Homo sapiens: one gene and its partners. The protein of the gene in region 3 interacts with the protein of the main gene of each other region in a pairwise test. Each region holds a gene or a part of one and is shown on either strand. Other genes may lie near its edges.

Region 1 (8,125 bases), on a different chromosome or scaffold from region 3:
ACAAAACTTGAGGGAATGTGTTACCAATGGAATCACCTTGCAAGAAATGCCCAAAGAAGTTCTTCAGAGAGAAGGGAAATGATATAGTTCAGAAACTCAGATCTATGTAAAGAAAAGTGCATTAGAGGAGAAATAAATGAAGGCACTAATTTAGGAGCTGTGACTATAGCAAAACAAAAACAGGTTTTACCAAGTACATGGCTTGATTGAAGCCACTAACTTTCCATAATCATGTCCTGCTGATTACCTACTAGATACAGCTACTTTATAGAATAATTAAGACTGCAGGATCAGGCCGGGCGCCGTGGCTCACGCCTGTAATCCCAGCACTTTGGGAGGCTGAGGCGGGTGGATCACGAGGTCAGGAGATTGAGACCATCCTGGCTAACACAGTGAAAACCCGTCTCTACTAAACATACAAAAAATTAGCCAGGCATGGTGGCAGACGCCTGTAGTCCCAGCTACTCGAGAGGCTGAGACAGGAGAATAGCGTGAACCCGGGAGGTGGAGCTTGCAGTGAGCTGAGATTGCGCCATTGCACTCCAGCCTGGGCACAGAGGGAGACTCCGTCTCAAAAAAAAAAAAAAAAAAAAAAAAACCCTCGGGAGCTTTCAGACCCTTTGAATACAAACACTTCCCTGTTGGGGATCAAACATGCAGCTTTAAAAGGCTTGTTCTTCCCCTAGGAGGAATGCACTCAGAATTCAAGAATCTGTGAAAAACATTTTTCTAAAAATGAAAAACAGGCTTGTTGAGGTGGATCACATCTGTAATCCCAGCACTCTGGGAAGCTGAGGTGGGAGGATAGCTTGAGGCCAGGAGTTCAAGACCAGCCTGGGTAACATAACAAGACCCCCATCTGTACAAAAACTTAAAAAATTAGCTGGGTATGATGGCTCATGCCTGTAGTCCCAGCCACGGGAGGCTGAGGTGGGAGGGTCACTTAAGCCCAGGAGTTCGAGGCTGCAGTCAGCTATCATTGCACCACTGCACTCTAGCCTGGGTGACAGAGCAAGACTCTGTCTCTTAAAAAAAAAAAAAAAAAAAAAAACCTTAAAAGATTACTACAAGAAATATTGTTGTTCTACAAAGAAATGAAAAAGCAATTGTTGACCAGGTGTGGTAGCTCACACCTGCACTTTGGGAGGCTGAGGTGGGTGGATCACCTGAGGTCAGGAGTTCGAGACCAGGTTGGCCAGCATGGTGAAACCCCATCTCTAATAAAAATACAAAAATTAGCTAGGTGTGGTGGCAGGTGCCCGTAATTCCAGCTACTTGATTGCTTGAACCTGGGCGGTGGAGGTTGCAGTAAGCCAAAATCACACCACTGCACTCCAGCCTGGGCGACAAGAGCGAAATTCCATCTCAAAAAAAAAAAAAAAGCAATTGTTAAATGAACACATGAAGAGGTTTGCTTTACCTCCTGGAAAATAGATGCTGTTGGGCTGAGAACAATAATCCCAATTGTGTTGCACATTGGAATCCCCAAGGGATTTTTCCAAATAAAAATCCCAGGTGTGGTGGCTCACCCGTTTAATCCCAGCACTTTGGGAGGCCGAGGTAGGTGGATCGCCTGAGGTCAGGAGTTCGACACCAGCCTGGCCAACATGGTGAAACCCCGTCTCTACTAAAAATACAAAAATTAGCTGGGCATGGTGGTGGGCGCCTGTAATCCCAGCTACTTGGGAGGTTGAGGAGAACCCAGGAGGCAGAGGTTGCAGTGAGCCAAGATTGCACCATTGCACTCCAGCCTGGGTGACAAGAATGAAACTGTCTCAAAACAAACGAACAAACAAAACTAATGCTTGGCTCCCACCTCTGACATTGTGATTTAGTTATTGAGGGGCATAATTTGGGCATAAGGATTGTTTTAAAAGCTCTCTAGGTGATCCTAATGTGCAGCAAAGTTTGGGAACCAATGGCTAAAAGGTCCTCAGGGTGGCAGCCACAGTGGGGCCCGTAGTAGTGTTTGCACTGCCCTTTACACCTCTCAGGGCCTGGGCATCCTATGCAGCTGGTGGTCCCACTAGGCAGCAAGAGCTTCTCTCGTCATTGTGTATACTCCAGGACCTCAGCACACAGCAGTAGGATAACACACTAAGCCCCCTTTCTGCACCAAAATGCTGACTTCTTATTAGAGAGAAGGGGAGAGAAACAACCTCCAATGCTTTATACTCAGAACCCAGAGACAACCTTGTAAGTCAAACTAAAACTGAAATAGGATATGTGCTTGGCCTAACACTGTGCTGTAGAATTCGTGCATCGTAAAAGAGAACTTAGCTGAGCTGGTGGGACATTTCTCATCCCACCTCACAGCAGAACTGATACAGGTGATGTGGCTGGCATCCCTCCTGAAGCCCAGGACGCAAAGCCAAGGATGCTGAAGAGAGGGAAGTCTTTCGGATGGAGGAGAGCAATTTTTAGAGGGTCCCACAGTCTATTCGTAGCAAATGGGACTCTGAGGTCACCTAATCTGGTCTTGCAGCTGGGATCTTTGAGGACTACTGGGGTGGTGACTTGCCCAGGATCACACAGCCAGCCATTATAAGAGCCAGGCCAGAACTCCAGGCTATGATTCCCTACAATGTGGGGCCTGGAAACATCCATAATTAATTTAGAACAAGGGGCAGATAACGGTACATTAGATTTTTCCAGTGGGAGGAATTAGATAAGGAAGAATGAGCAAATTAGAAAAAGAAAGCCTAGAGAAAAGAATGAAGAACATGAATCTCATGTTAAATAACAAACACATCACACCCGGCCCTCCACCCCAGCTTCCACCTCCAGCCCTGCCAACTGAAAACTGTCATTTCCTGGCAGTGCTTAAAACAAAGACTCTAGATAATTCCCCAGGGACTCACCGGCAAGCTGCTGGTCCCACTTACCCTGCCGCACAGCAGACATCAGCTGTACTCCCTCTTCTGCCCCGTGAAGACCTTTGGCTGCAGTGCCGCCGCTCATTCAAGTGACCGAGATCCTCTCTAAGGCGCCCTCCCCCACACCCCCCGCCCCGCACAGCCCTCTGGACGCCTTGAAGTACGGAGCCGCAGCCTTATCCTAAAGAAAGGCACAGCTCTGACAAGAAAAGGCAATCCGGGAGCCTTTCCCTAGCCGTTTAAAATGAAACTCACCGTTCTTGCTCCCGTGAGCTGTTGCAAATAATCTTGAATCTCGTTAGTGTGGTTGGTGGCTGTGATATCGACAAATTCCAGAAGCCCTTGTTTGATGGGCAATTGACTGAGGATCTCTTGGGCCCTCCTGCAGTACGGGCAGGTGGGCTTGATGAACACAACCACCTTCCCAGGCTGGATTTTGCAGTTCACAAACTCTTGAGCCATGCCGATGGGCTGCGGTCTCCCCGGGAAGAATCCTCAGTTGCAGGTATTGCTTGGGGTATTGAGCCCCGACCCAGCCAGTTGGCTCCTATTTAATAAGGAACCTCCCTGGAGGCGGAGTTTGCCTGGTAGCTTGCTCGAGTTTTAAAGGGACAGCTTCGAAGACATTTCCATCTGGTATACTTCACTAGTTAGCAATGCCCAGGAATGCAATACTTGCTATTTAATCATTGGTAGCTATGAAAGACACTCTGGGTATCTTTGTTGTCCTTGGACATTTGGGGAGTGCCTGCCCATTGGCAATGATCAGAGTTTAGTCACCTCTGGGGAAGCATAAAGTGCTTACTCACAAAGGGGCTGAGGAGGCAGTGACTTCTTAGAGCAAATTCTTGTTTTCCCTCTAGGAGATACAGTTGTATTTTAAAATGCAAACAGAATCACTTAAGAAACAGAACACTTGGAAATCTCTTTAGAAGAAGTGAAATTGAAACTGTGACTTTGCACTCCTCATGAAGGTTGCTCTCACAGCATTTTGCTTGGACTGTATGGTGGGTGTTTGTTGTTGTGATCTTTTTAATGGAATTCATTCTCAGTATTTAAAAATCTGGAGGTCTCACAAAACAATTCGGACTTAAAACTTCTCTCTGAAAAGTCAGGTCGGGCAATACAGAGCTTGCACCTTTTAGTGGAAGCTGCTGGGGCTGACAGCTGTTGCCCCCTTTGTATAGGGCAAGTAGTGGCTTTGGTTTGCCACAGGTCCCAACGACAGGCCCATGCCTGAGACACCGGCTTCACCCCATAACCATTTGAGTTGGTAACCCTTGAACAGCAGTTTAATATGGAGGCAAATTCCAACACAATCCTTGATACAAAACTACAGATGAAATGAGAATCTTTTTTTCTGGTTGAGCCTATGTTTGTGACCCTCTGCTTTTAACTGTTTGTGAGGGGAAGTAGTGTTGTAACTCAGACACCACATTCACTTCAAGTGTTATAAGACACGGGTTGTAACAGTAGGAAATCTTTCGCTCTTCCCCAGGGTGCCCATTCTCCTTATCCCGCAAAGCAAAGTCCTCTACTCCTGGGTCTAGTTCCGGCCCCCTCTAGTGTATGGTAGCTTAAATAAACAAATCAAGGAAAAACTATGTCCTTTAAACGTGAATCATCCTTTCCCCAGGAAGTTTTATGGTGAAACCAGAGTATCTTCAAAGAGGCGGGGCCAAGGCCAGAGCTGGACACCACGACTGCCACGTAAGAGGAATCCCAAGCATACTGCGATCAAGGGAAGGGAAGAAAATCCACTCCCAGAAGCAGCTTTTTACTGTGACTCTCATCGTTACTAGAATTAAAATGGCAAAATGAGAAAGCCAGATTCTGAGTCACGGAGGGGGAGCTAAGTGACAGCTCTGTCCAGAGAAAAGGATGTGGCAGGGCTGGGAGGCCCCTCACGTGGTCAGGGCTCCGGACTTCCCACTTCCCACTTCCCTCCAAAGTAGGCTCTGCCACAGAGTCTGAGCCTCCTCTCTTTTTTCATTCTTTTACCTCAGAACCCTGTGGCCAGGCTCCTTCCAGAGGCCCCTGCCAGGAGGTCCAGGGTCTGTTTCAGGGCCCTCAGGCTGTTGCCTTAAGTTCCCTCAGCCTGAGGTTTATCCACACGACTTGCACCTGCTACTCACTCAGAGCCTTTCTCTTCTCCGGTCTGTTGTTGGCTCCTCCCTTCCTGGTGCCTCAGCCTGCCACTGTGTTCAAGTTAAAAGCCACCACCACCACCACCACTCCCCATTTCCTGCTTTCCTGCCTCTGCCCTTTCATGAAATTTACTGTCTGTACCTTTCTCACCTCCATTCTCTCATTTTGTTGTTATCTGACCTTGTCAACCATTCTGCTGAATTGTTGGCAGACACTAATCATGGCCTCTATGTCACCAAATGACCATTTAGCTAGGTATCCTGACCTTTTGCAAATTAGTCACCTGCCCCAAGAGGCTGGGATCCAGGGAGACTATTGTCTGCCTCTCACTCAGTCCCGGGGACTGCCTGGTGTCTGAAGCCTTAGGACAGATGGCCATAAGGCACAAGCTAAAGGCAATTTTTTTGTGAGGCACCATGTGGAAAATGGGAGACAAAGAGATGGCAAAGAACGGGTGTCCTCTCCATTTCTCAGAAAATGCTGTGGCTTCAACTCAGTGAAAAATGACAAGCATAGAAGCCTCTGCTGCATTGTACAGCAGGAGCTGAAACCCAGCATGGACCTTAGGGCATCTCAATGGAAAGCCGCCATGGGGACTGCAGATGCGTCAAGTGCTGTGGATGGAAAGAGGGTGTGCGTGTGGACTAACACGTGTGGACTCTCCTTTGGCTTGTGTGAGACACTCCCAGGCACTCTCAGAAAATACACCTTGGAGGGTGGGAAGTGAGGGCATTTTTTAGGGGAGAATCAGTCCTGCTTTACAGATGGTTGGCAACAAGCTAGTGAAATATGTGTGGTTACTCTTTTTTTTTTTTTTTTTTTTTTTGAGACGGAGTCTCACTCTGTTGCCCAGGCTGGAGTGCAGTGGCACGATCTCTGCTCACTGCAAGCTCCGCCTCCCGGGTTCACACCATTCTCCTGCCTCAGCCTCCTGAGTAGCTGAGACTACAGGCACCCGCCACCATACCCGGCTAATTTTTTGTATTTTTAGTAGAGACGGGGTTTCACCGTGTTAGCCAGGATGGTCTCGATCTCCTGACCTCGTGATCTGCCCACCTCAGCCTCCCAAAGTGCTGGGATTATAGGCGTGAGCCACCGTGCCCGGCCAATGTGACTTCATTTGTACTCACAGGCTGATGAGGGCTGCAAAAAATGTGGCCACAAACGAACATTCTTCAGGGTTTTTCCTTACCCACTGTGCAGGGTTTGACCTTGTAGATCACTGCAGGCCTCTGGAAGTTCTCTTCCCACTGCCCATTGCAGCATGATCTTTTTGCTCTTTCTATTGGATATTGTCTCAGTGTCTTTGTTAAGAATTTTGCCTACACATATGGTCTATCTTGGGGCTTGATCTTCTCATTGTGTACACACCCACTCCTTGAGAGGTCGTAGCTCCACACATGACTCCAGCTGTCAGCTTTTTACTGATGAGCATCACGTTTTTCCTTATCTGGACCTCTCTCCTAAGCTTCAGGGAAGGCTATCTCATTGCCTACTGAAAAGACCCACCTGGGGATTCCTTAGGCCTCTCAGCCTCTAGGCAGCCAAAACTGAATCTCCCCTGAAGCCACCCTCTTTCCTCCATACCTGCTCATTGAGCCTGCATGCACCTTCATGTACCTTTTCGGCCAGGGCGGAAACCTGGCAGGCATCTGTGCTGGCCTCTGCTTTCACTTATGCATAGTGGCCAAACCCTACCAAGTTTGCCTCCTGAGTGCCTCCCTGGTCTGAACACCTGACTGCTCCTGCTGCTCTAGCCCTCATTAGTTCTTCACTCCCTCTTGTAGCACCTCCACCCTCGCCTCACTGCCTACTCCACACTGCTGCTGGGGCAATCTTTAAAAATACAGAACCTATCTTGTTCCCTCTTAAAACTAGTCCATGGGCTGGGCGTGGTGGCTCATGCCTGTAATCCCAGCACTTTGGGAGGCTGAGGCGAGCAGATCATGAGGTCAGGAGTTTGAGACCAGCCTGGCCAATATGGTGAAACCCCATCTCTACTAAAAATTTAAAAATTAGCTGGGCGTGGTGGCGTGTGCCTGTAGTCCCAGCTCTTTGGGAGGCTGAAACAGGAGACTCTCTTGAACCCGGGAGGCAGAGGTTGCAGTGAATGGAGATTGTGCCACTGCACTCCAGCCTGGGTGACAGAGCAAGACTCCAACTCAAAAAACAAACAAACAAACAAACAAACAAAAAACTAGTCCATGTTTCCCCAGGACAAAATCCAGATTTCCCTGTGGGGATGTGGCCCTGTGTGATGGGTCCTCCCTACCTTGTTCATCGTATCCCAGCCTCCCCACCAACATTTTAGAGACAGGAGGCAGCCAAGGGTCCCTGGTGAAACCCTGCCTCCAAGTCTAAAACAACCTGAAGGCTGAAAAACTGGACTGCTGTCCTAGTACTTTGGGAGGCCAAGGCAGGTGGATCACCTGAGGTCAGCAGTTCAAGACCAGCCTGGCCAACATGGTGAAACCCTATCTCTACTAAAAATACAAAAAAAATTAGCTGGGCATGGTGACAGGCGCCTGTAATCCCAGCTACTTGGGAGGCTGAGGCAGGAGAATCACTTGAACCCAGGAGGCGAAGGTTGCAGTGAGCCAAGATCGTGCCATTGCACTCCAGCCTGGGCAACAAGGGCAAAATTCTGTCTCAAAAAATACCAGAAACAAAGACAAAAATTGGACTGCTGGTCCTGGATGAGGCCCACCTTTTCCTGACTGATTCTTTCTGAATAATGCCCACCTGTGCACTGGGAAGGCGGAATGGAACTTTGGGAAGTTTGCACCGTTTGCAGCGAGGAGGAGCCTGGCCTCTCCTGTTCCTGTGTGCTGACCTGGAACTCAATCTGTGAGCCGGGAAACCTGCTATCAGGACTCTCTCTTGCTTTGCTGAGAATTATTTTTCCTTTTTCCTTTTCATCCAATAAATTCCATTTTCCTCACCCTTCTGTGTGTCCGCAAGCCTAATCTTTCCTGGTCGTGTGACAAGAGCCCAGTTTTACCGGAACTAAGGGGAAAGTTCTGCAACAATTTCTCCTTTGCTCCAACTGTGTGGACTCTGAGCCATTTCGTCATTGCTGCCACTCACACTTTGGACCTGCT
Region 2 (7,630 bases), on a different chromosome or scaffold from region 3:
AAAATACCTCACCAGTACTCCTCAATACTTTTGAGGTCATCAAAACCAAGGAAATTTTAAGATTCTCCTATCACACCACACCCAAGAGGAGTCTAGAGACATAACTATAAATATAATGTGATATCCTGAAAAGAATCCTGGAAAAAAAGGAGACCACAGAAAAACTAAGGAAATCTGAATAAAATGTAGTGTATTGGTTCATTAATTGTAACAAATATACCACACTAATGTAAAAAGTTAACAATAGGGGAGACTGGATGTGAGGTAAATGGGAACTCTCCATACTATCTTCACCATAATTCTGAAGTACAAAACTGTTCTAAAGTAGAAAATCTATTTCAAAAATCAAAGGGGATTTCATCTTTGGCAATGGTGATGCTTAAAAATGAAAAAGAGCTGGTTAAAAAAGTTAATTTCATGTGTCTTTTTTTTTTTTTTTTTTTTGAGACAAAGACTTGCTCTGTTGCCCAGGCTGGAGTGCAGTGGCACAATCTTGGCTCACTGCAATGTCTGCCTCCCAGGTTCAAGCAATTCATCTGCCTCAGCCTCCCAAGTAGCTGGGACTACAGGCGCGTGCCACCACACCTAGCTAATTTTTTGTATTTTTAGTAGAGATGGGGTTTCGCCATGTTAGCCAGGATGGTATCAACCTCTTGACCTCGTGATCCCTGCCTCCGCCTCCCAAAGTGCTGGGATTACAGGCGTGAGCCACCATGCCTGGCCCATGTGTCTTTTTAACTAGCTATTTTAGAGAACAGTCAAGGAAAATAGGAAGAAAAAAAAAATCAGTCCAGGTCTTACCTATTCTTTTTTAGTTTGGCTTCAGCCGATGGCATATTTTCTAAACAACTGGGACAATAATGGGAGTCCACCTAGGAGGAAACAAGAAAGAAAAAAAAAACCAGAGGAGAACTCAGTTTAACTTGTGTATATGTCTTGTCAAATAGTGAATTTTAAAATATGTTATACTGTAGCAGAAAGTAGACTGTTTTCTGCTTAGGGTTTATTCTTCTTCAGTCACCTGTTTTTTTTTTTTCTTCTTCTTCCGGATTTAAAAAATCCTTCTATTTTTCTGATCTTTCCTATTCCATCATCAGGGTTTTATGTGTTAAAAGTTGTTTATTTAACAATCTACAATTTCCAGTTGAACTCCATAGAATTCTATGATTAATAAAGAGATTAATAAAATAATCCAATTTGTAACATTGTGATAAAATATCCTCCTGTCTAGGCTAGCTTTATATGACTATAAAACTTGACCATACTTTTAGGTTTTGAAGGACATTTTTTTAAAGATTTCTCATTATTGAAGTAATACAGGTTGACTGAAGGCAAGCATAAATATTTATTTACATAGTCAGCTATGGCCAACCAATTAGAGATTTTTAAACAAATTAATGGGACAGTCTTATTGTACTTAAAAAACTGGAGTCTAAAATTTAAGTTCATTTTATTTTTTAAAAGTCTGAATAATTATTTTCTTTAATGTAGGTCCTATTTGACAATTATAGAACTCTAGTCACCTGCAAATGAAAAGACAATCACTGGAACATAAATACTATGATAGAAACTGGCTTTTTTCATCATCTGCTATAAACAGGTCAATTTGAAAAGATTAATAAAGTTGTTGCTCAAATAATCTCCAGGAACATAAAATACAATATTGCTAACTAACCTCTGCACTGACTCATCAAAAAAGGCAAAATACAAGTCATTCCTTTTTGCCCCCTTTCCAAATTCTGCTTGTCCGTTCATGTGCAGCTCCAGACCCAGATTCTCCATTAGAACTTCACTGCCTGCCCCAGCCCTCAGAGCTTCATCTTTCCCTAAACTCTAATGGCCTCCATATCACAGGTACACATCAGGCTGTAAAAGATGCTGTCACAGACTGGATGTCCTAATTGAAGAGAGTCTTAGAGACAGATCATGGAGACTGAGCACTCTATTCACCACAGGAGAATATGATCCAATAAATTCTGGAGGTGGAGCTGGAATAGGGAATCATCAAGGAGATACACATAAGGAAAGTGCTAATGGAGATGAGAAGAAAAATCGATGCCATATTTTTAATATATACGATTTTTCTTGTATTATTTAATTGCTTTTCTTGACTATTCCTATTATGAAAAGTATCTTCAATAAAATAAGTTATTAATAACACATAAAATGGCTTATAGTATGTGTTTTCATATGCATTTATTTTAACAGTCCCGGGATCTTCAGTAAAAAACACTCTGAGTTAGGCTGTTTAGATTCAAATCCAGGTCCTCCTTCCCACCCCCAAATTACTGGCTGTGTGACTTACAGCGAACACTCTGTATCTGTTTCTTTACCTGTAAAAAAAATTTTTTAAAAAAAGTATCCACTTAAATTGGTTTGAAGATTACATAAAGCACATGACATATAGCAAGTATCGAATAAGCAGCAACTATTACTACTATCAGCTTTTTCTTCACTAAGACTATGGCTTATTAAACAGCGCATTTTATGTCTTACTCGCCTTTTAATCCCTAAAGCTTACTGAATAAACAAGATGTGCCAAGCGCTGCAGAAGTTTTGGGGTTTTGTTATTTGGTGACTTTTTACTGGCCGGGGTCTTCTTTTTGAAAAATCCAACTTCGGACGCCCACTTGTGCCAGGGAAGGACAGCATTGTCCTCTAGCTCCATAAATACACTTTCAGCTTCTTACATGACATACTGTATTCTGAGCGCTTTTCACATAACTCACGCCGCCCCAACCTCTTCCCGGCTGCAGGCCTTGGCCTGAGTCAGGAACAGGGCAAGGCAGTCTGACGAGGGCCCAGTTTCTGGACAAAAGAGGAACAGAACTTTCAGGATGGGAGAACTATGAATGAGAACGCCTGCGCCTCCCTCCATCCTCGCAATAAATCCTGGAAAGGCAGTTTTTCGCCCCTTAAGTGGCCTGAACTAAGCACCCCCAGACCTTTCTCCGTAGTCCACCCAATTACCAAGCCCCATCGCAGACAGACACGGTCCCTAAGTCAAGTTTGTCCAATCAGAGGCCGCTCTAGAACCAGAAGATCCGCTCAGTCCCACCCGAGGCTGCTCCTCCTTTCCAAGTGACAGATTAGAAGCAAATTAAATCGCAGGCAAACCCGAGTGACGGAAGACATAACCAATCAGTAAGGAAGGAAAATAGCTCCAGCCTTCCGGTGGCAGTGACTAGCATGAACGCCGCGCCCCCCCCACCCCACATACTCGCTATAGGGCGACTCTGTTACCTCGTGAGACACACATTCCAGCGACCGCAGTTCGCTACAATAGCGGCAGAAGTAGAGTTGCGAGAGCGGGGCCCGAACCTTCTTTTCTCCCTGGACTAGATAGAGAACCCGGTCCGACTGCAGCAAGGACGCCATCTTGGGGAGGGAGGAGGCGATGACGCTCCCGGCGCATCACGTGACCCGAGAGCCAGCGTCTTCCTCGCTGCCTTCCCTACGACTTCCTACGTAGACTTTGACGTTAGGTTTCCCACCTCGTCCGGCTCTGCGCCCGTCGAAAACCAGAGCGCGCGTGCGCAGCTGGGATCCCTGTTTTCTCCCCAACTCTGGGCCCGTCCCCCAGCGCTTTTGTGAGCGTCCACTGCCCTTACTGCCATTAGGTCTGGACTCAGTGAGCTCCTTTTATTCTTTTCTTCCAGAATGGAAGCCTGATCTTTTGTCTTATTTACGACGGCCTCCTCTGCCCCACTTAACAGGCGAGCATCCAGGAGACAAATGGAAGGTCTCAAAGGGACAGGGCTCCGTGGGGACTGCAAGACAGGAGTCACACCAGCACTGTCTTCTGAGTCTTGCCAATGGCCTTTGGGAACTTTCACATACATTATCTCATTTGAAACGCAGGTTTTTGAGTACATAGTTAGCGTTAGGTCTAAGTCTGTATTGTGGACCTTCAATAAGTATGAAAAGGAGGGAATGAAATCAATGAATGAACAATGTTGGTAGGCGTCTACGTTTTTCTAATGTGTAAACTAAGGCTCAGGTCTGCCTCTTGGGTGAGCAGCGACTACGTGAGACTGGTATTACATGGGTGGGAAAATAATTTATCAACAGTTTTAGGTAAAGAAATGCAGATTTATTAGAGAAGGTATGAAAATACGTTGAAAGGTTGCAATGGGCAGACCAGCCAGAGAGGAGCTGACTTCAAGGAAACAAAGGCTTGCTGGAGATTTTATCCGATGGTTCTTGGGCTGCAGAGTGCTGTGCAGTACCGAGAACTCCAAGGTTACAGGGAGCTAACTTGCATGTGTCTCGTGATAGCTGAGTGCAGGAAGATTGTGAGTTATTTGCACAGGAGGGCTACGTGTCCTGCACCATGAAGAAAGGCAGACTTAGAGTGCATCTGCTCTTCTTGCTATCCCTTGGTCCCACTAGCCTGACTCCCTTTCTCTAACTGGGACTCCCCAGTATGTAAAATGACCACCTAGAACTGCCTAGCAGAAACTGGAGCCTCTGTTGCCTGCCACCAGGTCTACATTTTTATAATTGTAGTAGTGTTGTATTATTACCTGTCTGACGTTAGAGTTGGTGATTGAGAAGAAAGGGAACTGAATACTATTAGCAAACATTTATTGAGCACTTATTAAGTGCAGCACACTGTGTCAAAACTTTACATACATTGTCTAATTTAATTCTTACAACAGCTCCAAAAAGCATGTGGCTATCATTATTTCTATTTTACAGAGCAGGAAACTGAGGCACAGGGAAGTGCAGTGACTCCTCTATAAGGTTTCATAGATGGAGGTAGAACCCTTTTCTCTCTGACTCTAGTGCTTGCAGGTATAACCCCTATGTATACTCCCTCCAGCATATTTTCTAATATGGTGATGTTAATAATACCTTACATTTATATAGACCTTTTCAGCTTATACAGTGCTAATCTCACAATTTATGTCACGCTTTACCAATTGAGCCTAAAAGTCATTACTTGTTCACCAAGCAATAGCCTGGCACTAATTTAGTTTCATAGGTGACATCTGCTCCTAGGAGAGAATATATTACTAGCCAACTCATTTGCAATTATTTCTTTAGGTTAATGAATTCGTTGGTTTTCTGGTTTATAAACTAGTCTCTACTGAGTTTAAATTCCCTTTTCTGGACTATGCTGTTAAAATGAAGTCCCAGAGCCTGCAGGTACAGAAAGGCTGGAGACTTGAGCTGAATCCACATAAAACAGACACTTTTTAGAGCACTGATTTTAAATAATTAAGTGGCCAATTATCTTGTCCCTGCTACATGCCAGGTACTGGGGAGGGAACTAGCGATAAATGAGATACTTTCCATCCTCAAAGGCTCAGGGTTCTAGCAGGATCGAGTCCTAGTTATGCACAATGGTGACCAGCTTGATAATGTAGCCTTGTGTTGCTTTTTCACTCTACCCAGCCCTGGACTCACCCTCATTCACTTCTCAATCCTGGCTTCCTGCCTGCAGAATCTCATTTTGAGCTCTGCTTTCTAGGGGGAACTCAGGCTAATACAGAGACCCTAAAGTTGAACTGGCAGATCAAAGGATATCCACATTTAATAAATACTGGCAATAAGCCCTTGTGAAATTCTAGGCCAATTTACACTCTCACTATAAGTGTATGAGCTATCCATTTCCCACTGTTTTGCCCACCTGGCATATTATCAAATTTGAGTGGATACTTTTGGCACTTTCTAGCTATGTGATCTTGAAAAAGACATTTACACCTCAGAGTCTTGTTTCAAGACACATAGAATGAGAAGAATAATCCCTGCCTTGGTGAAAATAAAAAATCATCCAGGCTGTGAAAGCATTTTGTAAGGTATGAAGTACTAAGCACATGGAAGAAATGCTCCCTAAATATCCCAAGTATGAAAAACCCAAAGTGGTTTTCATTTTTATAAAGAGTCCTTCAGAGTAAATCCACAATAATAATGGAAAAAACTGGAAGTTAGTCAGACTTTGGTCAAATGAGGTCTTGTGAAGGGGACCGAATCTGGGCTCTGACCTCAAAGACTTAGGGTTTTCTACAGCTTAGGAATCTGGGGAACTGCTCTCACCAATGCTGGCCACCTGCCCTGGCTGCCTTCCCCACTTTTGCTTTCCTACTTGAAAACTATATTAATTATAGGGTTTCCTGTGTTGAATCTATTTACAGGCTAATCTAAAAGTCATAGTAAGTGAATAGAGGAGGAAGAAAAAAGAAGTCCCTGTTTCATCAATATCCATGCTAGCCCCTGTGGGGGCCCTTACTGCCCAGGAAATGTGGTGGTGGCAGGGCTAAAGCTAATTTCCCAAGTGTAAACATGGCAAAAGACTGCTGGCCTGCCTTTATTCTGGGAAATCTTTTGAATTGTTTTTGCTTTTGAATTGAACTGAACTTTGAATTTTTCTTTCCTTTTTTTTTTTTTTTTTGAGACGGAGTCTCACTCTATCGCCCAGGCTGGAGTGCAGTGGCACAATCTCAGCTCACTGCAAGCTCCGCCTCCTGGGTTCATGCCATTCTCCTGCCTCAGCCTCCCAAGTAGCTGGGACTACAGGTGCCCGCCACCACGGCCGGCTAATTTTTTTGTATTTTTAGTAGAGATGGGTTTTCACCGTGTTAGCCAAGATGGTCTGGATCTCCTGACCTCATGATCTGCCCTCCTCAGCCCCGCAAAGTGCTGGGATTATAGGCATGAGCCACCACGCCTGGCCCACTAAAACCACTTTTTATGAGAAGTGCACAGATGGGCCTACAGAAGATTCAGAAGCCTGACTAAAATTTGGCCAAACAGAGACTGTTTCTCACCCTCCCTCTTGCACAATTCACCACCCAACCCCGAGGCTTGCTTCTAGGAGAGCACCAGTGTATTGCTCACTGAATTGAGCAAAGTGGAATTAAAGACTGAATTCCTGCCTAACTCAGTGCCTGGCACAGAGCAAGCCCTCGGTTAGTATTTGTCGAGTGGATGAACACTATTTTAAACCATCTGGAACTTGCTGCCATATGGAAGCTGGCAACTAAAAAAATTTTTTTTTTCTTTTTCACCTTTAAGCAGTTGCTTCTTTTAGAAGGCAGAACAAGAAATAGGGGGAGAGGGGAGGATTGCAATTCTGGATTGTGTGGTCAGGGTAACCCTCCTGAAAAGGTAAGGTTTGAGCAAAGATTTGAAGGAGGTAGAGCGAGAGCCCAGTGGATATCTGGGGAAAGAGCCTTCCAGAAGGAGCTAAACAAGGTCTCTAAGGCGTATGTGAGGAGCAGCAAGACCTGTGTCATTGTTAGGGAGTGAGCACGGGGGAGGGGTTTGGGGGATGATGTCCCAGAGTTAATGGGGGCTGGGGGTGCACTCATGTAGGATCTCAAAGGGCATTTAAAGGATGTTGAATTTTTCTCTGAAGGGAATGTGGAACCATTGCAGGATTTCAAGCAGAGCAGTGATGTGATCTAACCCACATTTTACAAGGGTCATTCCTGACATCGTTTTGGAAATGGACTGTAGAGAGACAAGGATAGAATCAGGGCTCAGTTAGCAAATTCCAATGGTGATCCAAGCAAAAGAAGATAGTGCCATAGAGCACGGATTCTGGCTGTATTTTGAAGATAGAGCCTATGGGATTTCCTCATGCCCATAGACTGCCATGTGGGAGGGGATGGCTTGAAGTTAG
Region 3 (6,755 bases):
GAAATTTCTGTACCCAGGCATCCGGAAAAACAGTCAAGCACGCATGGCATGAAGTCCTCCAGGGTATGCTGGAGGGCGGGGCTGGCCATCTAGCTATGCAGTCACAATGAGCCATGAGATAATCACCTCAATGATTCTACAGAGATGTGTAGGTACCAAGACGTGGATATGGGGGAGAACCTTGAAATATGATAACGGACTATGCCACCAGCATGTCTCTGGAACCTATGATCAGGCAAGGTTCTAAAGTACGTAGTCTGTGTCAATGGAGATGTCACAATGTCTATTTCCCTTTGAAGGAAGGTGAGTATATGTCCCAGTTTGCCTGGATAGTCCCGGTTTAGGCCAGTTGTCCTGGCATAACTATTCATAGTGCCTCCTTCCACTCTTTGAAGTGTCCTGGTGTGGGTGAAGATTACACTGTCAACTCCCTTCAGGTGTGGCTCACTTACACCCCCCGGCCACCCCAAGATGCCCACAGAGCTTTCCCAGCAGAGCCTACTAGTCAAGATTTTTCTGCTCCTCCTCCTGACTCACTCCCTCAAGGCCAAGGAACCCAAAACATATCCCTCCTGATTGAGATGTGTTTGAGAACAGCCTTTTGCAGACACTCACCCTAGAACAGAGGGGTGCAAACGATGCGGTAATTTAAGCCTGTGTCCGATCCAGCGGGGCAGGGACTTTGACAGGAGCTGCCTTTCAGCGTTCTCCCCACACGCCGCTGAGGCAGGCCTGCATTAGAGAAAGGGACTCACACCAGTGCTGGGGATGGCAGATCAAGGGGGCTCTGCCCACCCTCATTCCCCCTACTGTTAAAATCCTATCCTCCTCTGCCCCCTAAAAAGACATGAAGCCAAGCCAGTGCCTCACAGAAGCCCTCGTGAAGACAAGACGGCACTGGCCTCTGACCACGCATCTCACTCACAGGCAGATTTTTAGAGGAATGACAGGAACTTTATTCTAATATTGCATGAAATGTTTTTGAAGTAGAAATGATTATCTGACAAAAAAACTCCTTACACTTTGACCATCTAAAAGGTTATTTTCTATAAAATTATATAAATATTTCCATGTCCATATATGAACACAACGTTTATGGTCCTAAAAGTTTTAAAAATCAACAGAATTAGATTCTTTAGATAATGATCAGCCTAGTCAGAAAACAACATTCCCCAAGCAAGCATAAAGAGAGGACACAATTACTGACGGACAGCGGAAATGTGCTGCGGGCTGGAGTGGGGGGGCTGAAAACAAGGAAAACACAATCAACAGCGCGCTTGGATTTTATAAAATAAAACCCTGCAAAAACTATATGTAAAAAGTGAAACTAACCATCCAAGGTGAAGGTCAGATGACCTCCTGAATCAAGTGCATTCTGAGTTGAAACAATGAATAGATCACCTGGTAGATTTGTTCTTCCAGGAGGCAAGGACCTTTTCCTCGTTTATTCTTATCAGGAAAACTTCTATTCAAGGTAGAAGGACAATAAGAGTGAAGCCTTCACAGCTGACAGACACTGCTTGTCCATTGGCTATGTCATCCTGGGCAAAGTCCTCAGCCTCTTGGAGCCTGTTTCCTTGCCTGTAAAATGTGGACAGTAATAGCTACCCTGCTGGTTGGTTGGGAGGATTAGACGTAATCTATCAAAAGTGCTGCTAAAACTGCCCCTGGCAAGTAATGGACAATGAAAAAAATCACTAAAACTATTTTGTGTGGGAGAAAAGGGTTTCACCCAGAATTTAATCCAACTCTACTAGTTTGCTCCCAAAGGGTTCTGTCAATCACAACCAACTTCAGAGTCTAAAACTGAACCCGTTCTGCTGCTCTGAGAGCCACTGCCAGGTAAACAGATGCTCCCTTCGGGGTGCTGTGGCCACTCCTTTTCTGAAGCCCCTGGGCAGCGTGCAGAATGCAGGCTCAGGGAGGCTGTGTTTTCCTCCTATTTGGGCAGTACCATTTCCTCCAAGCCACACAAGGCCAGGCGCTAGTCACATGAATTCTCTACTGAACCCCACGAGGTGACAGTCAGAAGACTGAAAACGAAGCCCCTTGGGCCGTGCAGGGAGGCTCCTGCACACATACGTTTCCCATGGGGCAAACGTTTCAAGCACCACAGGCTGGGCAGGGATATGGAAGGACGTCCTGAATCGCGAGAACCTACACCCCACAGGAAGCCGAGTACGGACTCTCAGGTCAGGCTCTGAGGCCCTCACTCCAGCTGGTCAGCAACAACACTCTATTGAGAAGCCAACACTCCATGGAGAAGGGGGCTTTAAGCAAAAAAGAACTCTCCTCAACTTGAAGAAGAGTGTGGCAAGCTCCCTGGCTGGGGATGTGTGAGCCAGGAAGCAGGTTCAAGCTGAAATGCACACTCCAGAGCATTGGAGAAGCGCCTGAGAGCAGCAGCAAAGACCACAAGGACATTGGTCCCACCCTCCCAGGTGACAGGCAGGGTTGCGAGGGGTCCCCACTGACAAGCACACAGGAGAGAAAAGGAACAGACTATGTACGAAGAAAGGAACAGACTATGCAGGAAGAAAGCAACAGGCACACCTGAGGTAAACTGTGGTCTCAGAAACATGATGCACACAGACAGGCGTCATCAGAAAGACCCTGACAGTGAGGTCTGCAGTTCTCTGGAAAGGCCCAGTGAGGTTTTTTGGTCCTGATGAAACTGTTCTCCATTTCACAGCAGTCATCCTAAATACTCCAAGCAGAGGTCTGTGAGGAGGGTGACTCGCCTCTCACCTTCTACAGTCCAGCCAAGGACTAGAGTCCAAGACAAAGCCCATGCTGACGGTCCCGTGAGGCCAAGAGGCAGGCAGGGCCGTCCTCTCCAGGCCAAGCCCAGCTGCACCCAGACAAGGCCGCGTGCTGCAGGGCAGGATGACTGGACATATCCAGGGAGCGGAAGTCCCCAAAGCTGGAGGCTAGCTCAGCCCATCCTGCTGCTGGCTGTCCTGCTCAGCTTGTGGTGAGTGGAGGCAAGTCCCTGCCCCGGCCCGCCTGCCTGAAGTCATCAGATGTACTGCTCCTCATCCCTGCCATTCAGGAGCAGAGACCACTTGTCCCCATCATCGTCTGCTGCAGCGCTGTGCCGAGATGGCTTGTCGGACGTCAGGGAGGACAGCGACACCTGGCTGACATAGCTGACCTGGTCCCATGGTGTGGCCCTGGGGGAGTCCCGCCACCTGTCATCCATGCCTATGTGCACACTGACCTGGGATGCCGTCAGGGGCTTCATGTGGCCATGCGCCTGTGCCTCATACCTCTCCAGGTCAGGCTTCTTATAGCTGGAAAGCAGGAACGCAACAGCATCTGAGCCATTCTAGAAACAAGGCTTTTTTTTTTTCTAAGCCTGGTGAAGGCCTCTCATCCATCTTTTAATAACATTCAGTATCAAAACCTCAAGAGTTTCCAAGGAAAAGGACATTAAACTCCCTATGGTTCCAGGAAAGCTCACCTGATTTAGAAACTTCCTAAGCAAATGCCTTGCACATTGTAGGCTGCCACTAACTTTTGTTAAATGAATGCACTCATAAATAAGTGAACATCTTTTTTAAATAAAAAAGTGATAGATCATACACAGGGACCCATGTCTGCTTGATGTTCACATAAACAGCCCTTGAGGAGCAGAGTAAGGGCAGCCCAGCACGTGAATGGGCAGCAGTGAATTGCCTGCTCATGGTGCTGATAAGTTACATGCATGCACACCAGGCTCCATGTGGGCTGCCACTGCAGCATTTGTCCCAGGTGAATGAATGGGAAATGAGAGGCAAGTTCCACTGTGCTAAGCATGCAGAATGACAAGGCCTCCTGGGAGCCTCCCACAGATGCTCCACCTGAGGGGACTCACCACTTGAGCTGCAGGGATGAGAGCACCACAGACACAGAGGAGGCTGCCATGGCCGCTGAGCCCATCCAGGGCTGCAGCACAATGCCGATGGGCATGAAGACACCTGGGGAAGAAAGAACTCGCACTCACACCTAGGTCTGGGGAGAGGAGCCAGGAGAGGGCTTCAGGCACCGGGCTGCCCCACCCTCAGCGGCCCCCAGTGAGGTCTCCACCTGGCGTGCTCAGAAGCCCCTGCCAATGGATCTTGCCCACAGGCCCCCCCCAAAGTGAGGCTTCCTAGAAAGCTGGGTGTGGGATGCTGTTGAGTGGGCCTGGCTCTCTTCCACTCGCCCTGATGTTCCCAGAACCACCCACAGGTGGCATCCCATTTCAGGGCGAGCTCCAGGGCAGCGACAAACCACAAGGAGTGGGAGGAGCGGGAGGAGAAAAGCGGCAGGAGCTGAGGGAGCCAGTTGCCCATCCTGTAGCCACAGTCCCACAGAGGACAAACACGGCTGAGGGCCACAGTCCTTCTCTAGCAGATGATCTCGCCTCCAGGGCTTCATGACATCTTTAGAAGAGGAATGAGAGCCAGGTCCCAGGACAGGGTCAGGAGACAGGTATGGTCAACTTTGTGTGGCAGAGGCACATACACTGGGGGAATTAAGCTCCTGAGCCGGCTCTGGGGACAAGAAGTAAACCTGCCTGACTCACTGGGCTCAGGAAGCCAAGGCCCTGTTACACAAGTCACCACTAACCACTCAGACACAAGGGAGACTGAGGCAGGAATGCTGTGATTACAAACTTGATCTCTCCTCAGCCCATGGAGGAGCACTCTGGAACTTTTCATTGCCATGTTCCTGGGGGCAGGGGGCAGGGAGCAGGGGGCGGGGGAGAGATGGTTCTTAAGGAGGGGGAATGAGGGGGAATTACAAAGCAGAAAAATCTATTTCTTTTCTTTTTCTTTTTTTCTGAGATAGGGTTTCACTCTTGCCCAGGCTACAGTACAGTGGTGCGATCATGGGTCACTGCCACCTCCAACTCCTGGGCTCAATAAATCCTTCTGCCCCAGCCTCTGTACTCCCAGATGGGACTAAGGTGTACGCTACCACGCCCAGCTAACTTTAAAATTTTTTGTAGAGATGGAGTCTCACCATGTTGCCCAGGTGAGTCTTGAACCCCTGAGCTCAAATGACCCTCCTGCCTCAGCCTCCCAAAGTGCTGGAATTACAGGCATGAGCCACCATGCCTGGTCAAAGAGCCATTTCTTTCCATGATCATTTGTGTAACTCAGAGTGAAACTTGGGCAGGATTAATGTTCAGGATAAGGTTCTGAAACACCAATAATTGTGCCTAGCATGTAGCAGATGCCCCATAATTCTTACTAATGATTATTTCTCAGACTATATGACTTAACAAATGGCTCAGAAAATAAGGCCACAATAAAATAGGGATCAGAAAATACAGCCAAGCATCTCCACTAGCTTTTTAGAAAGGACCAGAGTGAATGAAGGTTTCAGGTCCTCTCCACAGTTTCTCATTTAAAGACATATAAAGCAGGGGACATGAAAAAAAAAAAAAAACAGCCTTTCTAAAACGCCTCTAGCCAGCCAGTGAGTGAGCCACTCACTAACCCCAGCAGGAACCTGGGAGACAGAAGCCTTTCTGGGCGCAGCTGGAGCACAGTGGGTAAGAGCTGCCTACCTGCTGCAATGGGTATCCCAACCAGGTTATAAATCAGTGCCAGGACCAGGTTGATGCGTATCCTTCGGACAGTCCTCTTGGAAAGGTGAATGCTAGCCACCACATCCAGCAAATCATTCTGATGGAGAGGAGCACACAGTGAGGAAGGGGTCTGCCCATTGCCCTCCCAGCACCCACAGCCTGGCTGCAGCCACGCTCACTCTGATAAGGACGACGTCGGCTGCCTCGATGGCCACATCCGTGCCGGTGCCAATGGCCACACCCATGTCTGCCTGGGCCAAGGCCGGGGAGTCATTGACCCCATCCCCCACCATGGCGACTTTCTTCCCTTTATTCTGGAGCTCCTGGACCTTGGCCACCTTGTGCGAAGGCAGCACCTCTGCAAAGACTTTGTTGATGCCAACCTAAGACAAAAGGAAGGCAATGCCTAGTGTTGGCAAAAGGTATCAGATAGCAGCAGAAACCTCAAGTTACCCTTGCCCCCTCTGCCCTCGGCCTCTGGGTCCAGTCAGTGATGTTGGTCAACCACACCCTGCAGGTTTGCTGTCACAGGGCCAGTTTATCCCTGGCTCCTGCCCCAACACCCTGCACTGGTTTAGGCCCTGTCCTTTTCTGGATGTGCAAACAACCCCCTTGCTGGTCTCCCTGTCCACGGCTCAGTCCTCCAACTGTCTTCTCCATGTGCTGCCCCCATGGTCTTTCCAAAGCATCCGTCCGGCCATGTCCCTCCCTACTCTCCTGCTTCACATCCAGTAGACCCCATGCATCTCCCAGAGGAGGGCAGCTCAACTCTTGGGTCTGCTTCCGAGGGTCCCAGAGTCCCAGGGTCCCAGGGTCTGGCAGCTGGTGCCACACTTGACCATACCATTCAGCTCCCCGCGGCATCTCCAAACCGCCGTGCTACTCTGTGCCCCTGGGAAATGCTCCTGCTGCCTGCTCTGTCCTGGGAAGGTGCAGTTTTCCTTTCCTAGTCCCTTTCCCGCTTCTCAGATCTACACAGTCACTGGTCCACCTTCCTGCAAGACCATGAGCCCGTCAAGGGCAGACCCCCCTTCACTCCTCACAGAGCCTGGCCCCACACCTGCCTGTCACATTCGTGGTGCTTCGTAAGTGCCTGCTGAATAGATGAACAAGTGCTAGCCAGAAAAGGGGGGAAGGACGCTAAACAGGTCCATAATTAGCAAGGAGGACCATGGAAAACAGGGGTACTGCTGCT

Evidence for each region. The genes of interacting proteins can lie anywhere in the genome.
Region 1: the proteins of ATP7B (region 3) and GLRX interact in a two-hybrid assay, tested with the Homo sapiens proteins (one study listed by BioGRID).
Region 2: the proteins of ATP7B (region 3) and DCTN4 interact in a two-hybrid assay, tested with the Homo sapiens proteins (one study listed by BioGRID).

What each region holds. Positions count from the first base shown.
Region 1 is NC_000005.10:95,819,325-95,827,449, forward strand, and holds the start of GLRX (glutaredoxin-1), read right to left. Parts: upstream 3,403-8,125; 5' UTR 3,339-3,402; coding exon 3,132-3,338; intron 1-3,131. UniProt on the Homo sapiens protein: Has a glutathione-disulfide oxidoreductase activity in the presence of NADPH and glutathione reductase. Reduces low molecular weight disulfides and proteins.
Region 2 is NC_000005.10:150,755,616-150,763,245, forward strand, and holds the start of DCTN4 (dynactin subunit 4), read right to left. Parts: upstream 3,403-7,630; 5' UTR 3,379-3,402; coding exon 3,244-3,378; intron 3,084-3,243; exon of another isoform or gene 2,946-3,083; intron 2,893-2,945; exon of another isoform or gene 2,501-2,892; intron 2,334-2,500; exon of another isoform or gene 2,306-2,333; intron 873-2,305; coding exon 802-872; intron 1-801. UniProt on the Homo sapiens protein: Part of the dynactin complex that activates the molecular motor dynein for ultra-processive transport along microtubules.
Region 3 is NC_000013.11:51,931,737-51,938,491, forward strand, and holds the end of ATP7B (copper-transporting ATPase 2), read right to left. Parts: intron 5,944-6,755; coding exon 5,740-5,943; intron 5,658-5,739; coding exon 5,540-5,657; intron 3,960-5,539; coding exon 3,857-3,959; intron 3,294-3,856; coding exon 3,020-3,293; 3' UTR 2,582-3,019; coding exon of another isoform or gene 2,554-2,581; 3' UTR 933-2,553; downstream 1-932. Other genes in the region: TMEM272 (transmembrane protein 272), read right to left, coding at 2,554-2,581. UniProt on the Homo sapiens protein: Copper ion transmembrane transporter involved in the export of copper out of the cells. It is involved in copper homeostasis in the liver, where it ensures the efflux of copper from hepatocytes into the bile in response to copper overload.